Linked DNA regions of Homo sapiens. The main gene of each other region encodes a partner of the protein of the gene in region 2 in a complex. Each region holds a gene or a part of one and is shown on either strand. Other genes may lie near its edges. The genes, in order: ETFB, ACADM and ETFA.

Region 1 (9,946 bases), on a different chromosome or scaffold from region 2:
GCACGTGCTAGGGCACTCAGCAAGCAGGACAGCCAAGGCCAGGGAGCCACCCCAGTGACAGATCACTAACTCGGCGGGGGGCAGACAGAGAACTCGTCCCTGAGGTGACATGTGAGCCCCACGTGTGCCCTGTCAGACAAGGTGGCCTTGCTGAGAGCAGGAGGGGCAAGTGCGTGGAGCCCAAAGAGGAAAACCTGAAGAAACACCAGGCGCTCCCAGACGAGAGGGTGTGGCTGGTCGGGGTTGGGCCCCGAGATGGAAACACGTTTTCTGGGCCTGGAGTTTCTATCCTGTGGGGTCATCTCTAAGAAAATGAATCCCAGATAATGAATACAAAATTGCCCAGCCTCTCCTGGGTTTTTTTTTTTTTTTTTTTTTTTGTGAGACGGAGTCTCCCTCTGTCACCCAGGCTGGAGTGCAGTGGCACGATCTCGGTTCACTGCAACCTCCGCCTCCCTGGTTCAAGCGATTCTTCTGCCTCAGCCCCCCGAGTAGCTGGGACTACGGGCACGCGCCGCCATGCCCAGCTAATTTTTGTATTTTTAGTAGAGACAGAGTTTCACTCTGTTGGCTAGGATGGTCTTGAACTCCTGACCTCGTGATCCACCCACCTCAGCCTCCCAAAGTGTGTGTTTACAGGCGTGAGCCACCAGGCCCAGCCTTTCTCCTGGGGTCTTGAAAGAGGCCCTGAAGGTTAAGCTTCATCAGCTTCCTGTAAAATGTGCCCCTGAACAGGACAGGGTGTTACTGAGTTGCCAAATACCTATTAAAATGTTAGATACACGCACATACCCAGAAACATACACACAGCCGGACACACATACACACACACACACACACACACACACACACACACACACACACGAATACACTCTGAGCACAGCATTTGTTATGTTTTGAATAAATGACTAACTAAACATCCATTACTACTACTCCCAATAAAAACACTTATTGCAGCTGGTCACAGTGGCTCACACCTGTAATCCCAGCACGTTGGGAGGCTGAGGCGGGTGGATTACCTGAGGTCAGGAGGTCTAGACCAGCCTGGCTAACATAGCAAAACCTCGTTTCTACTAAAAATACAAAAATTAGCCAGGCGTGGTGGCTCACACGTGTAATCCCAGCTACTCAGGAGGCTGAGGCAGAGTTGCTTGAACCTGGGAAGTGGAGGTTCCAGTGAGCTGAGATCATGCCACTGCACTCCAGCCTGGGCAACAGAGATAGACTCCGTCTCAAAAAATAAAACAAAACAAACCACTGTGTGCCAGGCACTGTTCCAAGGGCTTATTTAATTTTCATTACAACTCAATAAAGTAGATAGTACCATCATCCCCATTGTACAGAGTAGAAAAATGAGGCTTAGAGTGGTGAAGCAATTTCCTCAAGGTCACACAGCAGGAAGTGGACGCAGGCGCTGGGCTTGGAGTCTGAGGTCTGCACTATTCTAGTAGTGAACCCACTGTCTCAGGAAGCAGTGACCACATCAAACTGTCTCCCCCACACCTGGAGCTCAAATTCCAGAAGGGGCGACAGACACCAGAGCAATCAATAAGTAAACAACACTGTGGATTACAAAGTGTCCACACCAGCTTCCCTCTGGGGACAAGCTGGGCTCTCAGAGGGTGCCCCTGCTCCCACCTCCTTCATGGAGAATGTGAGTCACTCCCTCCACTCAGTTAGGTTGGCTCCTTGAACTTTCATCTCTAGCAAACATACTTTCCTCTCCCTTTCTAGTTGCTAAGTATAGGGGAAAACACAGCAAAACACAGGGACCTGGGGCCTGTGATTTTAAGGAGGCAAGCAGGGAAGTCCTCCCAGAGAAGGTGATGTTTGAAAAGGAGGTGAAAGAGGTCAGGGAGTGAGCACGTGATTCTGGGAACAGAGGTGGATCAGACATGGCCCCTCTCTGCAGGGAGCTACCAGCCTGGGGATGATGGAGTAGGGCAGTGGGGAACATGGGGTAAACAGAGGATCCCAATCCAGTCTGGCGAGGGCTGATGGAAGCAAATCTAGGGACTGCAGAAGCCCCCAGGGATATACCAAGGCAACCTGAGGGTGTAGGGTCAGGGGCTTCCTGGAGGAGGCGATGCCAGGGAGAATCACTAAATTATTATTATTATTATTTTGAGACTGAGTCTAGCTCTGTCACCCAGGCTGGAGTACAGGGACACAATCCTGGCTCACTGCAACCTCTGCCTCCCAGGTTCAAGCGATTCTCCTGCCTCAGCCTCCCGAGTAGCTGGGACTACAGATACGTGCCACCATGCCTGGCTAATTTTTTTATTTTTAGGAGAGATGGGGTTTCACCATGTTGGCCTGGCTGGTCTCAAACTCCTGACCTCAACTGATCCACTCGCCTCAGCCTCACAAAGTGCAGGGATTAGAGGTGTGAGCCACCGCGCCTGGCCGAGAATCACTAGATTTTGATATAATCCATGAGTTGGAGTTGGGCAGGACAAAGGACAGAAAGCAGAGGTAGGAGGGTGGTGCTGGAAGAAGGCATGGAACGGGCAAGCCGCGGCCTGGTCTGTCAGGACAGGAGGAGCAGGTCACAGTGGCAGAAGCACAAAGGGTAAGGGAGGGTCCAAGGAGGGAAGTGGACGGCTGAAGCAGACCATGAAGAGGAGGCTGGACCACAAAGCATCCCAAATGCCAGGCAGAGGGGCTGCGACTCTGTCCTGAGGGTGCTGGGGAGCCACAGGCAGGCTGGGAGCAGGGGAGAGCAGGGTGAGCTCTGGGTGCAGAAAGGCCCCTAAGGCTGGGTAGAGGTGGGCTGAGAGGGAGAGACTGGGAGTGAGGGAGGACCCGGGTGAGGGTCCAGGTGAGACAATGACACCAAGAGACAATAGGGCAAGAAGGGTGGGGGGTGGAGAACTGACAGCTTTGGGAGAAGGGAAAGAGGGTGGGACAGTACCCAGGTCTAATCTGGTGTTTAGGAAGCTGGCAGGGTCTGAATCATTTATTTGTTCTGAAAAGGACATCAACAGACACATCCAGTGAGACAGGATGTAATGCAGGGAGCCCTGGGGCACTGCGGGAGGGGAAGGCAGCACCCTCTGGAAAGGACAGTAGCTGATTCAACGCGGCCTTCACGCTTCCCCTCTGTTCTCTCCCTGAGCACACCAGAGACATCCATGTGCCAGGCTCTGTGCTGAGTGATGCTGGGACCAGAGCTGAGTCAAACGTGGGCCTGCACCATGGGGGAGACGGATCCAATCCCAGACATGCCAGGCGTGGAAGGCCAGGGCTGGGATGGAGAGAAGAGGCCCAGGGAGCTGTAGGACTCCAAAGATGTGACAGTAACGAACAGTCAGAGCAGGGAGGAAACCAAGTGTTGGGTCCCAGGACCCCAAGAGGAATGTGTCTCAAAAGGGCTACAGGTGACATCCCTGTCATGTGCTGCCAGAGGCATCATTAGGACAGGGGGCATTGAGGGAGATGGGAGAGCAGAGTCTAGAGCCAGACTTGCCCGGGGTTTCGATCGTAACTCTGCCACTTACTGGCTGGGAGATCTGACAGGCCTCAGTTTCCTCATCTATCCAATGGAATTAATAATACAAAGGGTCGGCCAGGCACGGTGGCTCACACCTGTAATCCCAGCACTTTGGGGGGCCGAGGCAGGCGGGTGGATCACCTGAGGTCTGGAGTTTGAGACCAGCCTGACCAACATGGTGAAACCCCATCTCTACTAAAAATACAAAAAATTAGCCAGGTGTGGTGGCACATGCCTGTAATCCCAGCTACCTGGGAGGCTGAGGTAGGAGAATTGCTTGAACTCGGGAGGCTGAGGTTGCAGTGAGCCAAGACTGCGCCATTGCACTCCAGCCTGGGCAAAAAGAGCAAAACTCCGTCTCAAAAAATAAAAATAAATAATAAATAATACAAAGGGTACTGAAAGGACTGAATGGGTTAATCTCTGCAAAGGACTTGGAACGATGCCTGCCACGTAAGTACCCGCTAAATGCTGGCTGCTATCATCACTGACACTTTCATGCTCAAGTCTGGCTCCTGTACCCTCTTCCCCAGCCCACTCCCTAAGCAGGCAGGGGCAGTATCAGTGTCAACTTTGTGACCCTGGTTTTGCCCACCCTGAGGCCTCCAGGGTGCCAGGCCCTGCGCTAGGTAATGCTGGGGACACGGAGGTAAGTCCCCAGGCTGATGGGAAGGACAGACATGGACAGACAGTCACCATCTTCAGTCCAGTTCAGGCCAAGCATTGAGAGAAACGGGCCTGAGAGACCGTGTCTGATTCACCTCTGTCCACACCAGCTTCCCTCTGGGGACAACAAGCCAGGCGCTGAGAGCACCCTCCCCCACCTCTTTCATGGAGAATGTGAGCTACCCCCAGCTCAGTCAGGTTGGCTCCTTGAACTTTCATCTCTAGCAAACACACTTCTCTCTCCCTAGCTAGAGCCTCCTGGCTCACCCTGTGGCTATGGAGGGTGGAAAGCAGCTTCTGGGGCCCCACAGGACCCTGTCTGACTCCCTCTATAGCACATTTCGGGTAATATAAGAGTACAATGGTAAGTAATGCAGCCTAGTGGGTGAAAGCAGTCAGAGGAACCTGGATAGAACTCTCGGCTCTGCCCTTCTCTAGCTGGGTGACCTCTCTGTGCCTCAGTTTCTCCGTGCATTAAACAGGGACCGTGACTTCTTCCAGTGGGTAAGAAATAGAGAAAGCAACTCACTCTGAACAGTTATCAAGAGAGTGAATCCAGAACGAGGGAAAAGAGAACATGGCCGTGACCCCGGAGGGATCGGATGTTAGAACTTCACTCTTGGATTTTTGCCCTCAGGTGACTTTGACGTTTGGGGGTTAAAGCGGCAGAGGTCGGGGGTTACGAGAAGACCCCCACCCAGTGTGCGCTCGTGGCCCCGGAAGCACACGGCTGCGGGACTCAGGGATGTGGGAGAGGGGGGCCCGATCACCTTCACGGCGTAGTCGATGACCCTCTTGACAGCTACGAGCACGCGCAGCTCCGCCATCTTCCCGCCGCAGCCACTTACAGGGTCAGCCCGCACCCTCAGCGGCTCAGTCCAGAAGCCCCACCACCCCCGCCCCCCGCGCCCCTCTCTGCGCCTGCGCGCAGCACGGTCAGCCAGTCAACCGCTGCAGAGCCCGCCTCCCCGACAGAGGACCAATCGAGAGGCCGGAAGGAAGGGAGGTGTGGCAAGCAATGCAAACCAATGGGAAGCGGATCTCGGGGAGCGAGCGGGACCTGGAGAGAGAAGGAAAGGCCTGGCGGAGAGGGCAGGGCAGAGAACTAGGGGAAAGGTCGTGCACTGGAGGGAAGCGCGCCCGGAGTTTATAGATCCTCCCGGTCCTATAAACACTTCCCGGTATCCCCGGATCTGCTCTCCCTCTCCAGATCCCCCACTTCTTCCCGGCCTCTCCAAGTCGCGGTACTCGTATTCCCACGCCTCTGAATCCTCGCGCGTCGGTCTCTCCACTCTCTCCATCCCCGTGTTCCCTGTCCCTTCCATATCCGTATCCTCCCCTGTCCGTGTCTCTACTTCACCTCCATGTCGTCCCCACAGCCTCTCCACACCCTCTCCAAAGGCCCACGTCCCCTCCTGGCCCCGCCCCTCCCACATGTCCCTGTTCCCATCCCAATCCATGGAGACTTGTGTCTCCATGTCTGTGTCTCCCTGTCTCCACGTTCCCTATGAGTTCATGTCCTTATGTCTTCCCTGAGCCTCTATGCAACCCCGTGCCTGCGTCCCCACGACCCGCAGAAAAGCACGCGGAGCCGCAGCGCTAAAAAAAGCCGTTCCTTTATTCTGCCCCAGGCAGGCTGCAGTCACAGACACACGGGGAATCCACTGATGGCGTCGGTGCTCTGCATGATCATGTCTGCCAGCAGAAAGCAGAAGCCTGGGGGGACGGGGGTGCGGAGCAGGGAGAGGAAGGTGGGCCCTGGGGCGGATGGCCGGGAGGGCCCCGGGGACTGGGGTTTGGGGCTCCAAGGGGGTCTCTGCCGGGTCTGCGGGAGTCGTTAGTGTGTTGGGGAGTCCCCGAGAGGTCCCCGGGGTTTCCTGGGAGGGCAGCTGGGGAGCCTCTGGGGTGAGGGTCTTCTGGGCAGTCTCCTCCACCCTCTTCCCGCTGTCCAGTTTACCCGCGAGAATTGAGAAGGGTAAGGCCAGCCACCCAGAAAAATAGGACCAAGAGAAGAAGACGTTGTTCTTCCACGCATTCTTCACGGTGTAGCCTATCAAGGCGGTCAGCAGCAGCAGTCCTGGGCCCCGCCCAGCCGCAAGATGAGCTAGCTGGGCCTGGTGGGGGCTGCACCCAGGCCACGCCCCTTCAGACCCGCCCCCTTCTATCAGACCACGCCTATCGCCTCTCAGCCCGCCCCTGGCCCAGGCCCCTTCCTGCTCCTCCCGCTCTGAACTCTGTCTCGAGCCCCGCCCACCTCTCTCGGCTTCTTCCAGCCCTGCCCCTCGGATCCTGGCCGAGTACCTCAAGCCCCTCCCCTGGCGACCAGGCCCCTCCATCACCCAGGGCCCGCCCCTGCCTGCCCGCCTGGGGCGGTCTGCAGTCTCACCGCCGAGGAAGAGGAAGGCGCTCGTGGTCTGGCCCCGCAGCGACTCGCCCTCGTCGCACCGAATCCGCAGTCCCATCACCATGCCCACCACGCCGACACCCACCGCCAGCACCATGCACGCCACAGTCACCGCCAGCGTGGCTGGGGAGAGCGGGCGCATCAGCCCCCGCGGGCGCCGCCCCAGTCACTACGGGTTCGGCCGCAACCGGAAGCTCTCCCGTCTCCTGCCCCCAACCCGGTGTGTGGCCAGGAGCCGAGCTCCACCGACCGGGAGTCAGGCGTTTGGATTGAGACTTGGAGGTCACATCAGGACCTGCGGTTACTGCCGCTACCAGGACGGGGAGGGGGTCGGGGACAAGCCCACAAGTCGAGGGGCGGGGTTCGTGGCGGCCTCGGCCGACAAGGGACAGCTGCAACTGAGCCCGGGGTGGAAGGGGTGGGCGTCTCGCCATGGGCCCAGCTGTGTGTCCCGAGCCCTGGGGGTCTGAAATGCCCTCTGACATCTGGGCGGGCGGAGCCTCACTCTGGCAGGGGATGCTGGAGCAGATGCCGTGGTTGCATTCCTGCCACAGGCCACTGTGGCCCTCTTGTTGGCGGGTCCAGTAGTTGGTGGCCGTGGAGAGCACCATGAGGACGTTGGCCACGAGGCTGAGCAGAATGCCCCCACTCTGGAGGCTCCGCTTCACCCCCATGCCACTGAGGCTGCAGCCGGGGGCCACAAGGGCAGGATGGGCCCAGGCCTTTCCTACCCCGAGGCCCCCAGCTGAGGAGCCCGCTTCCTCCACACTCCTCCCCTGGTACTCCTGCCTGAGGTCCCTGCTTCTGGGGACCTGGAGACCCCCCTCCCTCAACAACCCTGCCTGAGGATCCACAACCTCCTCCCTCCAGACCTCGTTCCCCTTACTGGAGACCTTGAGACTTCCCCTGAGAGGCCTCTGAGACCTTCACCACAGGCTTTGCTGTGAGGAACCTGTCTTCCCAGAGACCTCCCCCGACAGCCGAACGCCCTTTCAGCCCAGCCTGTTCAATGTCCTCCCCAGACACCCCTCCACACAGGCCCACCTAAGTGACTCACACCCAGTGCCCTAGGGCTCCTTAGACACAGAGCCCAGAGAGACGGGGGGAGGGAGGCTGGGTCTCTGTGAGGCCAGGGGTTCCAGAACCCCCTCCCCCAGTGGCTGTTTAAAGGGATAATCACTCCCCCCACCACCATCGCATACACCCCCGCAGCTCTCAACTGAGTGACTGCTTAGATTCAGATCTCAGCTTTGGGGGCCGTTACATGATAGGCCGAGTCCTTCTTTTATCATTATTATCATTATTATTTTTTGAGATGGAGTCTTGCTCTGTCACCCAGGCTGGAGCGCAGTGGCACGATCTCGGCTCACTGCAACCTCCACCTCCTGGGTTCAAGCAATTCTTCTGCCTCAGCCTCACAAGTAGCTGGGACTGCAGGCGCACACCACCACATCTGGCTAATTTTTGTATTTTTAGTAGAGACGGGGTTTCACCATATTGGCCAGGCTGGTCTTGGACTCCTGACCTTGTGATCTGCCTGCCTCAGCCTCCCAAAGTGCTGGGATTACAGGCGTGAGCCATCTCTCTCTCCCAGGCTGGAGTGCAGTGGCACCATCACAGCTCACTGCAGCCTTGAACTCCTGGGCTCAAGGAAACCTCCTGCCTCGGCCTCCTGAGTAGCTGGGACTACAGGCATGTGCCACCACACCTGGCTAATTTTCTTAAGATTTTTTGTAGAGATGGGGTCTTGCTATGTTGCCCAATCTGATCTCAAACTCTTGGGCTCAAGCGATCCTCCTACCTTGGCCTCCCAAAATGCTGACATTATGGATGTGAGCCACCACTCCCAGCCCTTTCTTAGAAACTTCTCTTTCCCTTGGCCGGGTGCGCAGTGGCTCACGCCTGTAATCCCAGCACTTTAGGAGGCCGAGGCGGGCAGATCACCTGAAGTCAGGGGTTTGAGACAAGCCTGACCAACATGGCAAAACCCCGTCTCTACTAAAAATACAAAAATTAGCCAGGCTAGCCGGGGGTGATGGCAGGTGCCTATAATCCCAGCTACTGGGGATGCGAGGCAGGAGAATCACTTGAACCCGGGAGGTGGAGGTTGCAGTTAGCTGAGATCGCGCCATTGCATTCTAGCCTGGGCGACAGAGCAAGACTCCATCTCAAAAAAAAAAAAAAAAAGACAAAATTAGCCAGGTATGGTGGCGCACGCCTGTAATCCCAGCTACTCAAGAGGCTGAGGGAGGAGAATTGCTTGAACCCGGGAGGCAGAGGTTGCAGTGAGCCAAGATCACACCACTGCACTCCAGCCTGGGTGATAGAACAAGACTCCGTCTCAAAAAAAAAAAACAACCTTCTCTTCCCTTGACATTCTAGGCACCGCAGAAGCTCTCCAGGTCCCCAGCTGTCTGACTGCAGACTTCTGCTCCTCTGCCTTCTCCCCTTCACTTGTAAATCTGGGTATCCCTTGAAGCTCCACCCTGCACTCTCTTGCCAGGCAAGCCTCCTCACGGCCAAAGTTTCAGTGCTCCTTAATGCTCCATCCAAAACTCCATCTCCAACCCAAGGTCTCTCCCCTGAGCCTGACTCAAGTTCTCACCTGCTCCTGGCTGCCCCTCAGGGCCTTAATAGTCAACCATATTCCAACTGAGCTTAGTGTCTTCCACCATATTAGGGATGGCCCTGCCATCCCATCCAGTTCATCGAGCCAGACCCTTGGGCACTGTCCTCACCTTCTTCTTGCCCTTCACCCTGAAAAGCCTTGGGTCCCTAAGTCCTGCTCCTCCTGCCCCTGAATCTGTCTGGCTCATTCCCTCCTTTCCTGGTCCCAGGTCAGGCCTCATCATGTCCCACCTATTGCATTGCCAAGTTCCTCCCTCACCTTCTGGCCTCCCCTCCATGTCTACAGGGGGGTCTTTCTGGCACCCAGAGCTGACACTGTCCCTCCCCTGCCCACAATTTTTCTCCCAACTCCCCATCATGTTCAAGAGAAAGTCCAGCATGACATTAGAGGCCACAGCCCCCACCTGCCTCTCCCTCTTCATTTTCCATCCCCCGCCCCCCACATTCTATATCCTGACCCTAAATTACCGATCTTCATCCCCACAAGACTCCTGACTTTTCTGCACGTTCATCTTTGGGCCCCTCTGCCTGGATATTACCTTTCCCTGGCCCTTAAGAAGCTCCTAAATGTTCTCTCTCCAGAAAAGTCGTCTCCATCCCTCCACAATATGGTCAGTCTTTTTCCGGCATTCTCCCTGCACTGGGACTGCTGTCTGGCCTGTATTAACTGCTTCTGGTCTGTAAGTGCCTCCTCCCCACCACCCCACAGACTGAGCCCCTGCTGGGCAGGGCCTGGGTCTGACCCGTGCCAGTGT
Region 2 (10,642 bases):
ATGTAGGACCACTATTCTGGGTATCTTACAAGCTCCTAGGACATTAATGGTTGGAGAGTTGGGGTGGGGAGAACGATAGGCTGGAAGTGAACATACTGTGTTCAAGAGTTGCCTAGTCCATCAACTTTGATACCCTGTCACTGTGAGCCTCCCATGCATGCCTCTGGAAACCTTCCCCTCAGAGGATCTCATTTTTTAGGATACCCCACTCTAACAAAACAAATTAGCATAAAACCATGTTCTGTATTTTCTGCTGTCTACAGGGATTCTTACAATGTTCTGAGCAAGGAGTCACCAAACCAGTGCAGCCACATCATGCTGTCTATTGCCGCTTTCACAGCAGATCTAAGTAGTTACCACAGAGACCATCTGGTTCACAAAGCCAAAAACATGTACTATCCGTTCCTTTACAAACACGTTTGCCATCCCTCTTCTAAACTACTAATACACTACTTGTCTTAGGATCTGAAATATAGTCATATTTCTTCAAAGGAACATATAAAGAAACAAACAATCAAATATACATATATTATTGTTTTGCAACCCATTTTTATATTCATGACAGTTTAATGGATACAAAAGTAAAAATTTGCATTTATTAAAGCTGCCAAACTGGGAACCACAATGGTGTTCTTGAGTAAAGGTTTCAGGACAGTCAAAATTACACAATTTTCACTGTAAAAGATTTTAATTGAACTATCCAGCAATTTTAACAAGCTTAGATACTAAGAGAAAAGAGCAGCTGAAGAATATACTAAAGTTTCTTTATTTAAATTCTTATGTTTTTCAAAATCCGTAAAAAGAAACTGTCTTTGTAGATGACAATTTCAACTTATAAAAGACGAATTCCTACATGTAAGGTGACAATATAATTAAGAGTGTCAAATATTTGTAATTGAAACAGTGCTTTCCAAATAACATACCTCATACTACAGTAATAAAAACATACAGAGTATGAAAACTCGCATTTTCTTTGCATCTTCATTAATTTTATTTTGAAAGTGAAACAGTGCCAGGTGGGGTGGCTCATGCGTGTAATCCCAGCACTTTGGGAGGCTGAGGTGGGCGGATCACGAGGTCAGGGGTTTGAGACCAGCCTGACCAACATGGTGAAACCCCATTTCTACTAAAAATACAAAAATTAGCCAGGTGTGGTGGCACGCACCTGTAGTCCCAGCTACTCGGGACGCTGAGGCAGGAGAATCGCTTGAACCCGGAAGGCGGAGGTTGCAGTGAGCCTAGACTGCACCATTGCATTCCAGCCTGGGTGACAGAGCAAGACTCCGTCTCAAAAAAAAAAAAAAAAAAAAAAGTGAAACAGTTTCTCTGGTGCTTATTGTCCAGCAGTCACAGACCAAATCTACTCTGATTTACAGTCGCGTTACACAGGTTAATTCACTGAATCCCAGGTCAAGTCTAGGATTAAGCCATTACTTTTATTCCACTTTCGCATGTGAAGAAACGAAGGCTCAGAAAGTCAACTAAATTAGGCAAAGTCACTCTACTATTAGTGCAACCAGGATTCTAACATTTACTATCAAGAGCGCATGCTATTAACCACCTTGCTATACTGATCTTTCTGTTAGTATCCTAATTGGTCACTAGGTTCCATAACAAAGGAAAACATTCCACAAAAATCAGAACAAAAAACCTGACTCTATTATAAATGCGTTTTTAAATACCATGCACAAAAGTCAGAACTCAAACCAGGTTAAATGGTCTACTGAGGGACTTTTTTTTTTTTTTGACAGAGTCTCCCTCTGTCACCCAGGCTAGAGTGCGGTGGAGAGATCTCCGCTCACTGCAGACTCAGCCTCCTGGGATTACAGGCATATGCTACCATGCCCAGCTAATTTTTCCTATTTTTAGTAAAGACAGGGTTTCCCTGCTTTGGCCAGGCTGGTCTCGAACTCCTGGCCTTAAGTGATCAACCCGCCGAGGCCTCCCAAGGTGCTAGGATCACAACCGTGAGCCGCCGCACCTGGCCAACCGAGGGAATTTAAATAGGGAAAAAGTCACTTCACATGTGACTGTTCAGGAAAATATGTTACATAGAACAAAGTGCAAAGGTTGCTATTACCAGAATACAATGCCCATCAACCTGTTAATTACATAACAAAGTTAGCCAGTTAATTAGAGAGGTGGTTTGCAAATAGAAAACAGAAACAGCACGGGATCTGGAGTTATAATTGCTGAATGTGAATCTAGGTTCCACAACCATATTTGTGGCCGTAGACAGGTTTACAAACTGCTTATAGCTTCCGTTCAAAACCAAAAAATGGGACTAATCTCACTGCGTATTTTCGGACGATTAAAGTACGATAATGTTTTGAAAGCCTAATGCTATATAACTATTGGTTTTATTACTTCGGGCTCTCTGTCTAGAACAATGAAATTCCAAATATCGAAACAGCACCACTAGAATTGAACACTTTTGTGCATTTCTTGGGAATATAAGAGTGTCAGTTTTATGGGTTAAAGAAGAGAAAAAGGGTGTAAGTTTTCTATATCAGGTTTTTTTTAGATCCTTCCTTGGAGGTTGAGAAATCTGCTTTTCTGGTGTAGGAGTTAAAAATAGCTGAAATCTCCCAATTTCTGCCTTCACTGCACATTAACTTGCATAACACCAGCAAAACATGGGCAGCAATTCTTTAGGATTATTCTAAAACCGCAGCTTTTTTGGTCCAAGACATAACTTTAACTTAATTTTAAGTGACATCTAAATGGCAGTGGTGTGAACATATCAAGAATATTTAAGATACCAAAATTCATCTAGTGACAAACTTATTTAGAATCTATTAAGATCCAATACTAGAATATACACACAAGTTCACATAAAATTCTGCAGGTTTTTTTTTTACTTTTTTTTTTCCCGTAAGCAACGTGGAAACGTTACAACGAAAAGCTTATTAAACATTAAGTATTTCAAGGAGTAGCTGCTCCATTTTTCTTTTTCCCGTGGTTCTGACACAGAGACGGGGTCACTTTGGAAAAAGGTGGGATTCCCGCGGTAAATATTTGGAGGGTTTACCAGAGAAAGAAAAACGATATTCTAAAGAGAGGATGCCGGCTATAACGGGGTCGCCTGACGGGAGGATACGGAAAATGAAACGCTAGGCTACGTTCCGTCCGGTGGTAGGAGGCGTGAAAGCAGGTTGGGGGCCCCTAGGCTGGCTCCTTCCTCAGCCCGACTTCCCACTCCTCCCGGCCGCACCTATTTTTGGCCCAGGGCCCCCTGCTCCGACACCACAATACCCATGTTCCAGCCCCACCGCACCGCTGGGCTCCCTCTCACCCTGCAGCATCGCCCGAACCCCGCTGCCATGTTGGCTCCCGTTCCGGCCACTCGGACAATAATACACGGGTCACGGCCTTGACATACTCCCCGAACGCGGGACTCCTCTGGTCCCGCCCACTGGAGCCCGTGGGCGGGATGGGGCGGGGCGGGAAGAGGCGGTTGGGCTGCGGAAGGACGGGGCGCTGCGCTAGGCGGGGTGGCAGCGGTCCCCGGCGCCGGGTAGCCAACGCATGCTCCGTGACCCTTGCGTGCGCCGTCGCTGCGACCTGGGGAGGGGTCGCATCCCCTCTCCGGGCAATCTCTGATAGTCCTGGTTTGGTTTTCTGCGTTTCCACCTCTGGCCCTCTCTGTGGGACGCCGAGGCTGACCGCAGCGCGGAAAGAGAGCCAGGGCGGGGGAGGGGGACGGCGGCGGGGCTGGGAGGGCCCGGTTGCGCTGAACGGTGGGGGGACTTGCGGCGCGGTGCAGGACGGGAACCTGGGTTAGAGGGCGTGGCTGGGGCCTGGAGGGAGAGCGGCCCCCGTGGTCAGCCTTCACCTTTACCCGGAGAGAACGGTCAAACCCAGATCGTGTCTGCTTGGCGGATTCAAAGTATTAGTACATTTTGCTCTCAAATGCCCTACCTAAAGCGAAAGCATACTTGTGTTTCCTTAAAATTTAAAAGAGAATTTAATTGTTTAGGTAAATTTGACCTTTCCGCGTATTCCCAAGGCTGTTTATGACTTGTCCGCTGATGTGGTGTCCTTGGATATGCGGGTGCAATCCGAGGCTGTCCAAAGCTCCTGGTTCAGCGAATGATGGAAGTGAATGTCTCCCTGAGGAATTCTACCTGGAGTCACTTTCTCTTCCAGTGAGACCCTGAGTTTTGAGATGGTAGCTTATACTAAATCTTATACTAACTTAACATTTTCTTTTGCCCAATAAAGGTCACCCATAAATTCATCTAATTTAGCTGTTAAAATTCTATATCCTGTTATTGTATTCCCCTACTTTGTCTTCTGGGAATTTATAGTGTGTTAGTCCTAGGTACAAGGCAGAATGTTAATTAAGCGCTATATTCAAAGTGAAAGTACCAGGAAAATTCGGAAAAGGGATAAAGAGCTGAGTTTGTCCTGGTATAGGCAAGAAAGCCTTCAAAGTGGTGGTGGTAAGTAAAACACAAAGCGGACTCTTAAAGATGATTAGGAATTGTCTATTCATGTCTCCTTTGTTCCAATTTCTTATTCTGAACATTTTAAACACAGAAAAGATGAACGAAAAGCACAAAATCACCCATATGCCTATTGTAACCCCTTCTTACTGTACACGTGGCTGGCAGAGAAGCGAAGATGGAGCCCTCATCTTAAACATGTCTAGTCGGTAGTTCCTGCCACCATTCACCCAAGCAAGCTACCCCCTTGTTTGTCTGTGCCTGCAGCTCGACTTCACAGGCTGCTCTTAGAAAAGGATTTGGGGCTGCTTTTCATTAAAAAGAAAAGCCTTACTGATGTTGGGAACGGGCGCTCAGTGTTGCAAAAATCAACACTGAGACAAAGGAGCTCTTAGCAAGGCTAGTTTACTTTCTGCAGAAAGGTTGCCGCTCGCTAGTAGTCTTGCCACGAGAGCACACACGCATAAAGGAGACAGGGTCATTTATAACCTGACACGTGCACCCTACTACCGTGTCCGGTTTCCATTGGCTGGAAGGGGACCTCTGTACTTGTCCTGATTGGCTAGCAACTTAGAACTTTCCAAAAGAGGCAAAGACAGAGGAGAACAAAGGAAGGAGGAAGCAACTTGTGGAATGCTGAGAAAGGTAAAAACACCTCCAGATAAGGAAGAAAACAGGCTATGGCCTAATGCTTCCTTGGACCAGTATAAGCATGCCAGGGCAAATATCTAGGCTAAAATGTGGCAGCTAAGAGCACAAAGTACATTGATTTCTTTATTACGGCCAACAGATATCAAAGAATGTTAGTGTGGCCAACTGCCACGGTTACTACTTGAGACCATCGTTACAGCAGTTACTACTGTTACTGCTTGAGACCATCATTGTGAGATCAAATGAAGGGACGAACGTAGAAATGATAACTTAAGACAAAAGGAACTGTTTTAAGGAAAGGGCCAGGGGAAGAAGAAGAGAGCTCCCTGCTTCTCGTGAGCAAAGGCAGCCACAGAGCTTCCACAGCCCTTCCTATTTTTTGGGTAACAGGAGCAGGGAGGAGGTGGTAACGATTGGTCAGCTGCTTAATTGATCACAGGTTCATATTGTTACTGACAGGCTTCAATTATGCCTAATCATAAGAAACATTTGTGCCTAGATCGTAACTACCCTCAGCAGTCCTCCTGGGTGGCATACGCAGTTTGTCAGTTCGCCAACGTTCTGCATTTATGAGAAACAGTTTGCTGCTTACTCATATAGCCTCCAGTGATATACTGAGTTGATCACGAACCTCATTGTTTCGGCCTCCAATATGTTAGCACAGTTCTTTGAATAAATTTTGCTTTTAAGAGAAGTTACTGTTTATTCCTAATTAGACGGAAAGGAAAGTCCATTTGAAGAGGAACCTCTACTTCACTTTTTACACTGAGGACTCCCATACTCGTACTATCGGCCTGAGTAATTTCTTCTCAATATCATTATCACCTAGATTCAAATATTTTTCCATATTTATTTATATATTTATATGTGTACCTATGTGTGTGTGTTTTGGTTGTTGGTTTTATTTTTCTCAGATCTGTAGGTTGTAGATAAGACACTTCAGTTCAGAATACTTTAGCTATATGTCTCCTACAAGGACATTTTCCTATATAACCATTTCCTATAAAACCTTTATCACATCAATGAAAATTAACAATTATTCGCTACTATTATTTAAGGTCCAGAGAATATTTACATTTCTCCAGTTGTCCAGTTGTCTCCAGAATACCTTTTGTAAATAGTTTGTTTTTGAACCAGGATCCTATGAATGATTGCCCATTGAAGTTGGGCTTTAACTTTCTTTGGCTTCTTTTAATCTAAAGCTTTTAATCTAATTCATTTTTCCCAATAATAACTGTCTTTTTAAACAAATTTAAGATACCAAGCAGTTGTCATGAAGAATGCCCTAATGCTGGATTGTCCGATTTTATTTATTTTGTACCTCTAGATTTTGTATTTCCTATCAGTTGCAAGTTACCAGAGGCTTGAGGAGTTCAGATTAAACATTGGATAAGGATACTTCAAAGGTCATACTGTGTAGTTAATATTGTATTACATTAGGAGGCATTTAATATCAGATTTGTCCCACTATTGGTGATGGTGTAAGCCAGCAGTGTCCAATCTTTTGGCTTCCCTGGGCCACACTGGAAGAAAAAGAATTGTCTTGGGCTATACATAAAATACACTAACACTAATGTTAACTGATAAGCTACAAACCAAAACAAAAACGCAAGAAAATTTCATAACGTTTTAAGAAAGCTTACAAATTTATGTTGGGCTGCATGCAAAGCTGTCCTGAGCTGCATGTGGCCTGTGGGTTGCATGTGGTCTGTGGGCAGCAGGTTGGACAAGCTTGCTGTAAACCAAAAACAAAATTCTAAATTCCCCCCAACTATCTGAATGGACTTTCTCGTAGGCTAGGGCACTCTAAAATTTAAATTTAACCTGAAAGACTACTTCAGGCCATGATGGGAAGTGGGGGTTGGACATGCCTCTTTATACCTCAGTGATGTTAACATCAACACAGACCTTAAGTCTGATAAGAAACATTTACAATCTCTTCTCTCTGAAGGAGAGAGATAACAGAATGCTTTTCTGTTCTCACCTGAAGGCTTCCTTTGCACAATAAGAACTTTGGTCTCCACAATCCTTTAATCTTAACCCAGACATTTCCTTTCTGTTGGTTCCAGGTCTTTAGATAAACTTAACCAAGTGTCAGCCAGAAAATGTTTAAATCTGCCTATAACCTGGAACCTCCCCCCGCCTACCCCCCCAGCTCCACCCCTGCTTCAAGTTGTCCTGTCTTTCTGAACTGAACCAATGTATTTCTTAAATGTATTTGATTGAAGTCTCATATTTCCCTAAAATATATAAAACCAACCTGCACCCCAACCACCCTGAGCACATGTTCTCAGGATCTCCCAAGGACTGTGTCGTGGGCCATGATCACTCATATTTGGCTCGGAATAAATCTCTTCAAATATTTTACAAAGTTTGACTCTTTGTTGACAATGCTATTTGATCATTTGATTATTGACAGACAGTTCTTTCTATGGTAAAGTTATAGTTTTCCCTTTGCAATTAGGAAGTAATTTATAGGGTAATATTTGGCATCATGCCAAACAATCTTTCATCTACATTTTTGCCAGTAGTAGGAATAGAACCATCTCTCAAGAAATACCTTTTTATTAATTAAGCACTGTTTCACAAAACTTCTCTACATTTTTAGGTGAAATAATTCGAACGTCTCCCTGGTGTTCCTTCTCCCTAACCCATCTATTTCAAGGTAAGCAGGACTATACAGACCTACGCTCCAAAGTCTAAGGAAGCTGAGAGGCTAAAGAAAGAGGCTGACACATTAACGTTTCTCAAAAAGAAACATTTAATGGAGACTTAAAAACAGAAGCCCTGTCTGCATCTCAGGCGGCAGTGAGACAAGATGGTGGATCCCAGTGCCATTACCCCTCAGACCCAGGGGTTGTATACCACAGGGAAAGGGTGACTCAGAAGGGACATGTAGGACAATTGAAATACAATAACATCAAAGTTGTCTTGATCTAAGGGCAGGATTTACAGTAAGTACATGCTTTTACACAAGAAACAATAGAGAGAGGGGAAATCTTAGAAGCCTTCCCAGAACAGGGGAAGTCCACATGGTGGATTAACATCCTAGGTGGCGTTGCTTTGTCCTCCACATTCCACTAATTCATGTGTAGAGTCTCACGCACCCTTCTTTTTTGCAATGGTCCCAGAGCCTTTGAAATCCCACTGGGCCATATTGGTTTCTCATTGCCAACATACTCCTTGGGATTTCAAACAAGGGAGATTGACAGGCTTCGTTGAATTTCTCTAGTCTTCAGAATACTATGACTTTAGTTTTCTCGGAAGTAAAACAACAAAAGATACATAGCATCAATAATTTGAATAGTAGAAATACAATCCACACAAGGATTACAATCAGAAGAGAATTTGTATGCCAGAACAAAAATGAAAGGAGCCTATTCGAGTAAGCAGCCAACTAAAAGCATCATGAAGAAAATTAAAACCAAGTTCCTTTTTAGAGACTTCTTGTAGCCAGGAAATAATTCAGGATTTAGTCCAAATTATAGGCAAATTATAAAAACTCAAAAGCAGTGGTCAGGGCTAGAATCTAAGATTTTTTTTTCTCCAGTTTTCTTATTTCTACCAAGGATAAATTATACTAGGACCAATTTATTTGCAAAATAAATTTGTCTCATTATATTGGCCTGGTTATTTGAATAAATTGTAGCAGGAATAGTGATCAGCCATATAGGCTCCTTTTAAGTTGGCTTTGCTAGAACTATCAGAATTTTTTATTCCAGTGTTTTAAAGCCTCAACGCCAGAAGCAAAGCCAAGGATTCACCATTAGACTGCATTTATAATACCTGTACAAATTTCTCTCTTCTTGAGGTCTCAAAATATCTTGAGATTTCTGATCCTGTTAGAAAGTGACATTCATTACTTACCACGGGTCAGGAAACTTCTTAGGGAACCAGTCTTTCCATGGGCTTTTTATTGGCTCTCTGCAGTCAACTTCAATTCCCCAAGCAGATTGATCATGTCTGAAAATAGACCATTCCAGTCAAAGCCTTGGTAAAATAATGTGTCTCCAATTGTGTCCTATTACAAAAGAAAACATTCATATTGAACATATGTACATAACTATATTGCCATAAAATAACACAAATAGTTTTCAAATTTGGGAGAACTCATATAGAGAGAAGGACAAATTTTGCTTACAAAAATACACTTAATCATTATAAGTTATAAAGAGCTCAAAACAAAAAAGTTTTCTTGACTCTTCTTCAATCAGAGTAATGCCTTCCAAACAGGATGTTGCCTGATGACCTTGGAACTGCCATCCACAAGCCAAGCAACTCTTAGGTTAGAGCTGTTTGTCAGGTACTATGGTATCCAGCAACTCCTCACCAGTTCCAGGATCAGTCCTAGGAGAGAAAGAGGCTCGCAGCTCATGAGTATATCCTCTTTGCACTCCTCAGGTAGCAAGATCCATTCCCATTTTATTATGTACTCTTCTGGGCACTGCTATCCCCGTTAGAGTGTTTCTCTGACATCACTCCAGACAGCATGTGTATTTTAGGTGTCAAGATCATTTTATGTCCTCCAGTCATAGGGATAGCTTCTGTTAATGTCCCATTCCAAGGCAGAAATGCCTCTCAAGTAGAAATTCTGTAGTCCACAGTCCCAGTAGTGGTTGTTGGGAGGTGCTCACAGGCCTTTGCTATGACCCCTAGTAAACACTCCACAAAGGGCTATCAAGTGGAGGTTTCATCCCTACCAGCACTCCATCTTCTACTCTACCCTCTGAGGGCTTGAGCAATTTACTGGCTCCCATTTAGCATGTCCAGTTAATATTGCTTAAATGGCAGATTTACCATTACTAGAAATGCCTTCTAGTTTGCAGTACTAAGTAGGAGAAACATGCTCTGGTCAGATACAATGTCCGTTTTCATGAAACATTTAAGTAAAGGTGTCACAACTTTATATAAAGTTTATTTACAAACTTTTTAACTTTCATAATCCTATCAATCTTTACATTTTTGTGTTCTAGCCCCAGAAACTTTTCTTCTCCACCCAAGATCATTTTGTAAAAAAGCCTCTGGTGAAAAACACTTTGTGTTCCCAGTAGGGAATTGAGCCAAGGAACTTTGTATATCTTCATTAACCACCTCAACATTACCTCAGGCAATTGTTGGTCAGCTTTCTCTTTTACGATTTCTCCAATCGGGCAAATACAGAAAATTGGCCCTTTAATGTTGAGGGACCAGCAGGGGCTCCCTTTGGTCCACCGAACTTTTGGCAGTGTTGTATTAAGACCTTTGTTTTAACCCCATCAATTTCCATTTTATTCATTCCATTTCTTAATAACCATTTGAAGATTCCCACCTTGCTGGGATGAGTCCCATGACTCTAATTTTTCTCTAAGTTTCACCCCCATCAATATACATATTTTTAAATTCACCTTATTTTTTTAAAAAAATTATTTTAGGTTCAGAGGTACGTGTGCAGGTTTATTATATAGGTAAACTGCATGTCACAGGTTTGGTGCACAGATTATTTTGTCACCCAGATAATAAGCGTAGTACCCAATAGGTAGTTTTTTGATCTCCCTCTTCCTACC
Region 3 (9,947 bases), on a different chromosome or scaffold from region 2:
TGCAGATAAGATTTATACCATGCTCCCCCTGGTGCCAGTGACTAGGTGTGCAACAGAAACCCCAAACTGTGTATTATGCTCATAATTTCATTTTCCTAATTGGTTAAATGGGAATAATATCCCAAACTTCCCAACTTCTTACATTTGAAAAAGATCTGTGTACTTCTAAAATAAATACTAAAAATAAAAAAAAAAATCAAAGTATTTTCAATTTACATCTTTTAAGATTAATATTTCACTTACCACCAGATACCACCACTTTGGCACCTGTTAGCTCTGGTCGATCACTTTTTGTTAATTTCTGGTCAAGCCACTCTGATATTTCCACTGGTGAAGTACTTGATGCTGCATACATTAATACATAATAAAACAATGACTATGATTTCAAGTTCTATAACAAGAATTATTTTCAAGAGAAACACACAAGTATATAATTCCACGAAATTTAAGTTAATTACTGTGAATTTTCAGTGCTCCTAATTAATTCTCTCTGATAATGGAAAGACTTAAGGAGACTAGATTCCAGCCTTTGCCACATTAGCTGTATGACTCCAGAAATCATTCAATTCTCTGAGTCTGAATATAGAATAACTTTCTTTCTATGAGGTTCAAATAAGACACTATATATGTTAAAGTGTGACACCCTCCACACGTTTCCTATTACATTCTTCTGTTATACTGAATCACCCAAATATAATAGGAAACAGTGACAAGAGTAAAAAAGCTTAATCTTAATAGATCCTCTGTCTCCCACTCCCTTGATCTACCAAAGCAACTATCCTAGTACCAAAGATAATGTGAAAAAGATGTAAGTTATACATATTTATTATTTTTGTATAAGCTTGGGAATATCATTTAAATTGAACTTTCAAATACTATTCATTAGAAATGTAGGCAGAGGTCATCTCTTATTATAATACAGTCTATGAATTAAAAAAGTAAGAAACAAAACAAAAAAACTCCAAATGAACACTCACCCTTTTCTGAACTGGCACTACCGCCACTTGTTGCTGCAGCATCAAAGGATGTTCCACGGACAGAAAACACTTTCACTTTCTCATCACACTTCACTGTACATAGAGCATTTCCTGAAACATACAATCTATTTCTTAAAAGCAACAGCAAAAGGCAACAAAACTAGCACTCCTTTGATGCTTGGAATTTACTTCACAGACAAGGCAAGAAATAACTATTGACCAGTTGTCTTCTAACTCTATTAAGTATAGGAAAAAATGAACCATAACGGTGAAGAAACATATCAGCAGATATCTGTATAACCCTGGATGTCTTTAAAAGCAGGACAGGTACTACCACACCTAGAAGGAAGAAACTCGAACAGGCATCCACACTAAGAAGGTACACTACACCTCTAAAAGGAATATGAACAAAGCTTCCTTCTCCAAAAACAATACAATCAGTAACTCAAAACTATGAGCTGCAACAACTTAGGAAGAATGTAGCTACTGTGCATGCTAAAGGAGGAATATCTTGAAAACACAATAGGTCATAAAGAACAGGTATGAATGTGCTAAGATTTTAAGAGGATTTGAGACACTCTGGATTAGCTATCACATTAACAGTAACCTAAACCATGACAAAATATTTTCCCTCAAACATTATGGAAGATGAAAAGTCTAATTTCAGAATTAGCCATTCATACTGGAATACACAACTTTAATCAGGCAAAAAACGAAGAGTTCACTGCCTTCTCCGACCCCACTAGAGACCAGTGTGCTAAGCAAAAAATCAACTGAAGAGACACTGAAATGAATTTCTTTTCTTTTTCTTGAGACAGGGTCTTGCTCTGTTGCCCAGGCTGGAGTGCTGTGGCATGATCACAACTCACCATAGCCTCGACCTTCTGGCTCAAGCAATCCTCCCACCTCAGCCTCCCAAGTATCTGTGACTACAGGCATATGCCAACATGCCTAGCTAATTTATTTTATTTATTTATTTTTGAGATAGGGTCTTATTATGTTGCCCAGGATAGCCTCAAACTCCTGAGTTCAAGTAATCCTCCCACCTCAGCCTGCCAAAGTGCTGGGATTATAGGCACGAGCCACTGCAGCTGGCTAAAATGAATTTCTTAATGCCTATGGAAATGAAGTAGAAGCAGCAAAGATTGAGAATACTATTTTTTTTTAAGTTTTGCTTTTCCAGGTACCACTTACAAAATATATTAAATTGTGAATCTAATTTTTATTGATCACTAGGAAAATATCACCCTGCAAACTGAATAAACAGGCAGGAAATCTCTGTGTTTGCGATCCATCAGAGAGAATGCCATGTCAAGGGCCACCAGCAATTCTAGACTAAAATTTTCCTCAGAAACCTTTAAGATGGTCCACTTAAAGCAATTGTATGGTTTGATTTAAAATTCTATCTTCAAGATTAATTTATGCTTTTCACTAAAATTTAACATGTTGATTAATTATCTTCCTTGAGTACTCACCTGCATAAATAGTTCTCACAAATGTGTCAGGTGACTTGATTGCAATGATGTCAGAAATCGGGGCAACCTCAAGTTTGGCTGCTACTCTGGGCAAAAGGTTCTAAAAGCAAAATAAGCAGTGAGTTAACACACATACATAGTGATGGAAGACTATAAATGATCAGTAATGACATATTCTAAATGCATATTCTGTAGAAATTTTAATTCAAATATTTTATATTTCGTGTGCACCTTTGGATACACAACTTCAAGCACAGCTTTTTAAATAGCCTTTGAGATTGAGTACTTACCATTACTCTAACTACATTAAGAGTTTCATGAGTTTTACAGTATTAAGCCACCTTAATGCAATATATTGAACTATGAGATATGAAATTTAATAAACATCAATTACCAAGTGTGACAGTTGTGGATTATTGAATTTAGATAAGAAAAGATAGAACAAATTTAGAAGGGTGGTAAAATTCTCAAATACTGAAAAAGATTATGCTTGTATACATTTACTTAATGTATATAAAAGAAAAAAATTCACAGCAGACATTTCACCTTTTGTTTAAATTGATATTGTATAAAAAAAAGAGTAAGGCCAGGTACAGTGGCTGACACCTGTAATCCCAGCACTTTGGGAGGCTGAGGATCACCTGAGGCCAGGAGTTTGAGACCAATGTGGCCAACATGGTGAAACACCATCTCTACTAAAAATACAAAAAATTAGCCGGGGATGGTGGTGTATGCCTGTAGTCCCAGCTACTCAGGAGGCTGAGGCATGAGAATGAGAATTGCTTGAACCTGGGAGGCGGAGGTTGCAGTGAGCTGAGATAGTACCACCACACTCCAGCCTTGGTGACAGAGCGAGACTCTGCCTCAAAAGAAAAAAAAAAAAAAGGAAAAGAATAACACTAACCTGAAGAACAGCCTGTGTAGTACATATTTAAAAAGCAACAAAAATAAAATAAAGGTGTGTTCTTGTGCTTGTACTGAAATAGATGCATGTGCTAACTTTGTCCTCAGCAGCAGGAATCCTTGGGAAAGTCACAGTTCCCCAAGTCTCAGTTAATTCTTCTTCTTCTTCTTCTTTTTTTTTTTTTTTGGAAACAGGGTCTCATTCTGTTACCCAGGCTGAACTTGCAGTGGTGTGATCATAGCTCACTGTAACCTTGAACTCCTGGGCTCAAGAGATTATTCTGCCTTGGCCTCCTGAGTAGCTGGGACTACAGGCGCACGCTACTGCGTCCAGCTCATTTTTTGGTTTATGTTTTGTTTTTTTCTGTAGAAGCGGGGTCTTGCGTTGTTGTCCAGGCTGGTCTCGAATTCCTGGCCTCAGCTGATCCTCCTGCCTTGGCACCCCAAAGTGCTGGGATTACAGACATGAGCCACCATGCCCATTCTGAAGCACCTACTTAATCTGGTTTAAAAACCAGATTTGTCAGTATTTAAAGCTAGCTTCAGTAAGTAATCCTCCTCCTGAACCACCTTCTTTAACTGTTCAGGAATTATTACTGGAATAGTTACTTGGCTGAACAGATTATCTTACAAATTTTATGTTATACAGACTTTGCCTCTTTTAAAAGTTTTAGAACTTTCTAAATTGCTCAAAATTTAATGTCTTTTGTATTTTCATTATCCCTTGTTTAACATATCTTCAAGAAATTTTACCATGGTACTTAAAAGTATGTTTTCCTGGATCTGGTCTTCTATCTAAACATCATGAGGGTGGATGGTACACAGATATCTATCCTATTAAAAATATATCCCATCCAACAAGCTGCCTGCATGGTTTCTGGGAAGAAGAAGCAATAATTGAGTTCTTTTTGTGCATAAAAAATGACATATTTTAAAATTCTAGCAGACAAGTATAAAAGTGTGTTATCTCAAAACCACAGCTGGTGAAGGACTATCATACAGCAAATTGTTTGGCTTCTTCTGATAGACGTTTCTCATTCCAAACCCATTTACAGGCCGCACGACCAGCTACTATTATGTGACCCTTATTCTCAAAACTCCCATCTGTTACAACATAGCAATCATGGCCAGAGTACTAAAATCTAGCTAATGACAAACACCCTTTCATGGTCTAACACTCTGTTAGGTGAACTGTCATCATAGAAGGAAACTCAAGGCTCATGAAATTATTTAAATCATCCAATATATAATCAAAACTCTCAGAGACAGAACGGTCCACAAAGATTATTTCACCCATCAGACTGGAGGAAAAAATGTTAAAATGTATACTACCAAGTGTTGACAATTAAGTAATAGGTATCAAAATTTTTAAACTACATAGCATTTGACTCAGTGATTTCACCTCTAGAACTCTATTGTAAATAAATTCCAGCCCATGTTTACACAGATACATGCATGACCATGTTTTCTTGCAGTAAAGTATATAAATGCAAAAAACTGGAACCAAGTTAACTGTCCTTAGCTAAACATGGAATCTTATGCAGCCATAAAAAAAGAGAAACATTATGAGCCAAAGTCGCTACTCTTTTTTTTTTTTTTTTTTTTTGAGACAGGGTGTTGCTCTGTCACCCTGGAGCACAGGCTGGAGTGCAGCAGTGTAATCTCAGCTCATTGCAGCCTCAACCTTCCAGGCTCAAGCAATTCTCCCACTTCAGCCTCCCAAGTAGCTGGGACCACAGGCATGCACCACCACACTCAGCTAATTTTTTTTTTTCATTTTTTTGTAGAGATGAGATCTCACTGTATTGCCCAGGCTGGGCTACAACTCCTGGGCTCAGACAATCCTCCCAAAGTGCTGGGATTACAGGCGTCAGCCACCGCACCCTGCCCAAGTCATACTCTTAAGTAAAAGCTACTATTCACAAAACAATTCATGCCATATTATCCCATTTTAGAAGTAAAAAATATATAGCTGTACATGTACTGTAATTTAAAAATCCATAGAAGGAGGCCTAAAAGAATGTACAATTGTTAACAGCTATACTTCTAAAGAGGGGAGGGTGAGTTGGGAATAAGAAAGCAGGACTTTGACACCTTGCTCTGCACACTGCTGTACTACACGCAGTCTTCCTAATAAGGATGTATTTGTGTACAACTTATTTTACAATTTTTAAAAGTGAAAATAGGCTAAGCACAGTGACTTATGTCTGTAATCCTAGCACTTTGGGAGGCTGAAATGAGAGGATGACTTGAGGCCAGGAGTTTAAGACAAGCCCGCACAACATAGGGAGACTACATCGATACAAAAAATTTGAAAATTAGCTGGGCATGGTGGCATGTACCTGTAGTCCTAGCTACTCAGAAGGCTAGGATAGGAGGATCGTTTGAGCCCACAAGTTGGAGGGTATGTTGAGCTACAATCGTGCCACTGCACTCCAGTCTGGGCAACAGAGCTAGGCTGAAGCAGGCAGATCACCTGAGGTCAGGAGTTCGAGACCAGCCTGGTCAACACGGCGAAACCCTGTCTCTACTAAACATACAAAAATTAGCCAGGTGTGGTGGCACGCACCTATAATCCCAGCTACACACGGGAGGCTGAGGCAGGAGAATGGCTTGAACCCAGGAGGTAGAGGTTGCAGTGAGCTGAGATTGTGCTGCTGCACTCCAGCCTGGGCGAGGAAAGTAAGACTCCATCTCGAAAAAAAAAAAAAAAAAAAGTAGGCCAGGCGCGGTGGCTCACGCCTGTAATCCCAGTACTTTGGGGGGCCGAGGCGGGCGGATCACGAGGTCAGGAGATCAAGACCATCCTGGCTAACACAGTGAAACCCCGTCTCTACTAAAAATACAAAAAATTAGCCGGGCGAGCTGGCGGGCGCCTGTAGTCCCAGCTACTCGGGAGGCTGAGGCAGGAGAATGGCGTGAACCCCGGGGGGCGGAGCCTGCAGTGAGCCGAGATGGCGCCACTGCACTCCAACCTGGGCGACAGTGAGACTCCATCTCAAAAAAAAGAAAGTAAAAATAAAGACTAAAAATGACACCTTATTAAGAATGGAACAAAAGAAAAGAGAGCTAAGATAACACCCACGGCCACAGAGAGAGAGCAAGAAAAATCCACTGACGAATTCCTTGTCTTAAGCTCCCATTACACTCCTCCCTCCATTTTTAACTTTATGTAGACTGCTATCCATCTTATAACACACTCATTCTTCAGACACATCACAATGCACATGATCAGATTACAGCTTTCTTTACCTTAAGGATGTCTTCAACCACCACAAGCCCTTTCCAAATTCCCTACGTAGATAAAATTTGGCTTTTCTAGATATCCATCAGCCATCCAAATAAACCATCTCTTAAAATGGGCTACTAATAGAAATGACTCTTGCTCGTTCACTCTCTCTCTCACATGCAAGCAGAATTCAGCATTACTTTTACATGCAGAAAATTTTAAAATAATAGCCTAATTAGAGTTTTCTCCACAACATAATTTGAAAACCTGGAAATGGTAGTTTTAACGGAAAATTATGACAAAATCTTGAAAGAATAAATTTTAGCAAAACTACCACATCAATTCAGATAAATCCAGATTGGCTACATAAACAGTCTGTTGCATACTTTCAGCACAATGAAATCTAACCCTTTCAAGCAGTGATATCAGATTCCACATTCTCAACCTTCTCACCTTTCCGAAGGCAGATGCTCCAGCACAGATGTGTGTGTAATTGAACTGCTTCTGAGTTGCCAAAATCAATGGTGTCAGTTCCTCTGAGAATTAAACACATTTGATAAAAAAATATTTTGAAATACTTTCATATTCATATATTCAAGCGTAATTTAGACACTACATTTTTTTCTACTGGAAAACCTCACCTGGAAGTAGGCCTTTGTACACATCATGCTGAGCCACCAGAACTTTTGCTATGCCTGCTACTTTACAGAGATCTTGTGCCACCTATGATTAAAAGATAAGTTCCTAATTATCCATCTATCAGAAATATACAAATAAAGCCACCACTATAAATATCAACAGATCATAAAATCTTAATGGCCAACTGTAAAAATTATTCTTATTAGCAAAAGGGCCAGTTAAGAATTAAAATATATTCCGGCCGGGCGCAGTGGCTCAAGCCTGTAATCCCAGCACTCTGAGAGGCTGAGGCAGGCAGATCACCGGAGTCAAGAGTTCAAGACCAGCCTGGCCAACATGGTGAAACCCCATCTCTACTAAAAATACAAAAATTAGCTAGGCATGGTGGCGGGCACCTGTAATCCCAGCTACTTGGGAGACTGAGGCAAGAGAATGGCTTGAACCCAGGAGGCGGAGGTTACAGTGAGCCAAGATCACACCACTTCACTCCAGACTGGGCGAAAGAGTGAAACTCCATCTCAAACAAACAAAGAATTAAAATATTAAAATACATTCCTTAACAAAGAAAATCTAATGCCAATAGATCTTACTACTGACTGACCTTACACTGTCCAACTACCAAGCATTTCAACAAAAATTCCTGCCTTGAAAAAGAAAAGTGCTAATTGACAAACCAAAATCAACATGGCTCTTTATTCAAATTTTGTTATAAATTGTGCTTTTTACTTTTGGTTCAATCCAAGTGTAAGTTCAATGTCCTGGAAATGGTGAAAATGAAGTTCTCTAGTAACATCCCATTGTCAACCACTGAGTTCCTGCCCACATACACATATTTATCTATGACAAAGCAAAATATTTCCTATTTTAATTCTTCATTTTTCCTGTTTGGAATTAGAATGGGGTTCTGAGAAAGCTTTTTGATGATTCAGATTTTCTATATTCAGAAGGCAATTAGATTTCCCCTTTTTAAGTATCTTTATTACCTCATGGCTGGTTTCCACTTTAGCTAAGTCATATCAGTCATACTATCGTCTTCTGTCTCCTTGTTTACCTCCAAACTGATTCATTGATTCACTGATGAGTAGGATTAAAAGGCTGTGCCTTGTGCCACCCTCATATGAACTGTTAGCTTGCAACAATATTCACTGAAGAAAGGATGCAGTGCAAGAATACATTCTCTGCTAAACCAAGTGTTCACCGGCATACCATTTGTACTACAGAGGCCCTTTATTATGGATGCAGCTGCATTTAGCTTCTCAAACTTTAAGAGAATTTCCAATTAAGAAACTCAGTTAATTGCAATGTAGCTGCATAGCAGCATGGGATAGAAAATGGGGCAGAATTTTCCCATTGAAACTATCTTGTTTTTACTGGCAAAACGGCTGGCATTATACAGAAGAATAACTTGCTGTTTATGACAAGTAGCTGAATAAAATGGTATAAAACCGAACTCTATTAAACGATCTCTTCATACAGGTACTGGTTGTTTTCTTTAAAATTAGAACATGACAGGTTAGGATTGTAACTGAGTACAGAAGACGATTTCTATTTTGATTTTTCTCAAAGTAGTATAAAGTATCAAAGTCTTTTTAAAGTAATATTACAATAATTATTTTAAATCACAGCAAAACAAACAACAAATCACAAATTCCTATATATCCAAAAACAGGGAAACCAAAAAGATAGCTTAGCCATCATATACTGTGGCTAATACAGACATACAAATAGATAGCTTAGCCATCACACATCACACATTGTGGCTGTATCAACTATGTAAGATCCTACAGTTGTTAGCAGGAATTGGGTAAAGAAATCCACATAACTAATCATAAACCCACCAGAATATGTTCTTTTATCAATTTCATGTAAAAAATTAGACAGAAGCAACACCAGCAGTATGAACCTCCATTATCACATGCTCTGAATTATTGTTATTTTTAATATATTTTTTGAGACACAGTCTCACTTTGTCACCCAGGCTGGAGTGCAGTGGTACAATATCTGCTTATTGCAAACTCTGCCACCAAGGTTCAAGTGGTTCTCGTGCCTCAGCCTTCCAAGTAGCTGGGACTACAGGCATGCATCACCACACTGGCTAATTTTTATATTTTTAGTAGAGACAGGATTTCACCATGTTGCCCAGGCTGGTCTCAAACACCTGACCTCAAGTGATCTACCCACCTCAGCTTCCCAAAGTCCTGGGATTATAGGCATGAGCCACCATGCCCAGCCAGCATCAATTATTTAATAAAACATAAAATCCTCAAAACATACTCCCTTCAGATTTATTCCTCTGTGAAGTTTAAGCCCCCAACTACACACTCAGCAACTCCTATACCATGTGAGAGGGAACTGGTGGCTGAAGGTGTGTAAGCTTAACTGAAGCACTCATCTATATTGCAGGCTGGTGGTATAGACCCTGCAAATCATATCATAGCACCTTTCTAGAGGGTTAGTGTTCCAAGCTGTTATCATCTGATTTCAACAATAACAACAACAACAACAACAAACAAACCCAAGAACATCTTTTAGTACCAGCTAGAGTTTGGAAAGAATAGTACTTAACATTCAAATTCTTCTACCAATTAAAAATTAACATCCATAATACTTTGTCCAGATTTACCACTTTCAGGAATTAGAAGCAATTACCAAGTATATTCATCAACACAAAAAAGAGATCAGCTATTAACCTCTAAGGGGACTCAAATATTATCATTCCACTTG

The links.
Region 1: the proteins of ACADM (region 2) and ETFB are in contact, whole or in part, in a crystal structure (PDB 2A1T), measured with the Homo sapiens proteins. Residues at the interface, in NP_000007.1 of Homo sapiens: Glu43, Gln44, Lys46, Glu47, Phe48, Thr51, Lys54, Phe55, Glu58, Glu59, Arg80, Glu83, Leu84, Gly85, Leu86, Leu98, Leu100, Ile108; in NP_001976.1 of Homo sapiens: Glu73, Arg76, Thr77, Tyr192, Ala193, Thr194, Leu195, Pro196, Ile198, Met199, Lys202.
Region 3: the proteins of ACADM (region 2) and ETFA are in contact, whole or in part, in a crystal structure (PDB 2A1T), measured with the Homo sapiens proteins. Residues at the interface, in NP_000007.1 of Homo sapiens: Pro163, Lys173, Pro211, Gln232, Arg235, Glu237, Val251, Glu253; in NP_000117.1 of Homo sapiens: Arg223, Lys226, Arg249, Asp253, Ala283, Ile284, Gln285, Glu304.

What each region holds. Positions count from the first base shown.
Region 1 is NC_000019.10:51,361,341-51,371,286, forward strand, and holds the start of ETFB (electron transfer flavoprotein subunit beta), read right to left. Parts: upstream 5,049-9,946; 5' UTR 4,987-5,048; coding exon 4,930-4,986; intron 4,790-4,929; exon of another isoform or gene 4,689-4,789; intron 1-4,688. Other genes in the region: CLDND2 (claudin domain-containing protein 2), read right to left, coding at 5,665-6,236, 6,546-6,686, 7,069-7,237. UniProt on the Homo sapiens protein: Heterodimeric electron transfer flavoprotein that accepts electrons from several mitochondrial dehydrogenases, including acyl-CoA dehydrogenases, glutaryl-CoA and sarcosine dehydrogenase.
Region 2 is NC_000001.11:75,717,471-75,728,112, reverse strand, and holds the start of ACADM (medium-chain specific acyl-CoA dehydrogenase, mitochondrial isoform a precursor), read right to left. Parts: upstream 3,405-10,642; 5' UTR 3,326-3,404; coding exon 3,296-3,325; intron 1-3,295. UniProt on the Homo sapiens protein: Medium-chain specific acyl-CoA dehydrogenase is one of the acyl-CoA dehydrogenases that catalyze the first step of mitochondrial fatty acid beta-oxidation, an aerobic process breaking down fatty acids into acetyl-CoA and allowing the production of energy from fats.
Region 3 is NC_000015.10:76,285,394-76,295,340, forward strand, and holds part of ETFA (electron transfer flavoprotein subunit alpha, mitochondrial), read right to left. Parts: intron 7,308-9,947; coding exon 7,226-7,307; intron 7,121-7,225; coding exon 7,038-7,120; intron 2,553-7,037; coding exon 2,453-2,552; intron 1,089-2,452; coding exon 978-1,088; intron 346-977; coding exon 244-345; intron 1-243. UniProt on the Homo sapiens protein: Heterodimeric electron transfer flavoprotein that accepts electrons from several mitochondrial dehydrogenases, including acyl-CoA dehydrogenases, glutaryl-CoA and sarcosine dehydrogenase.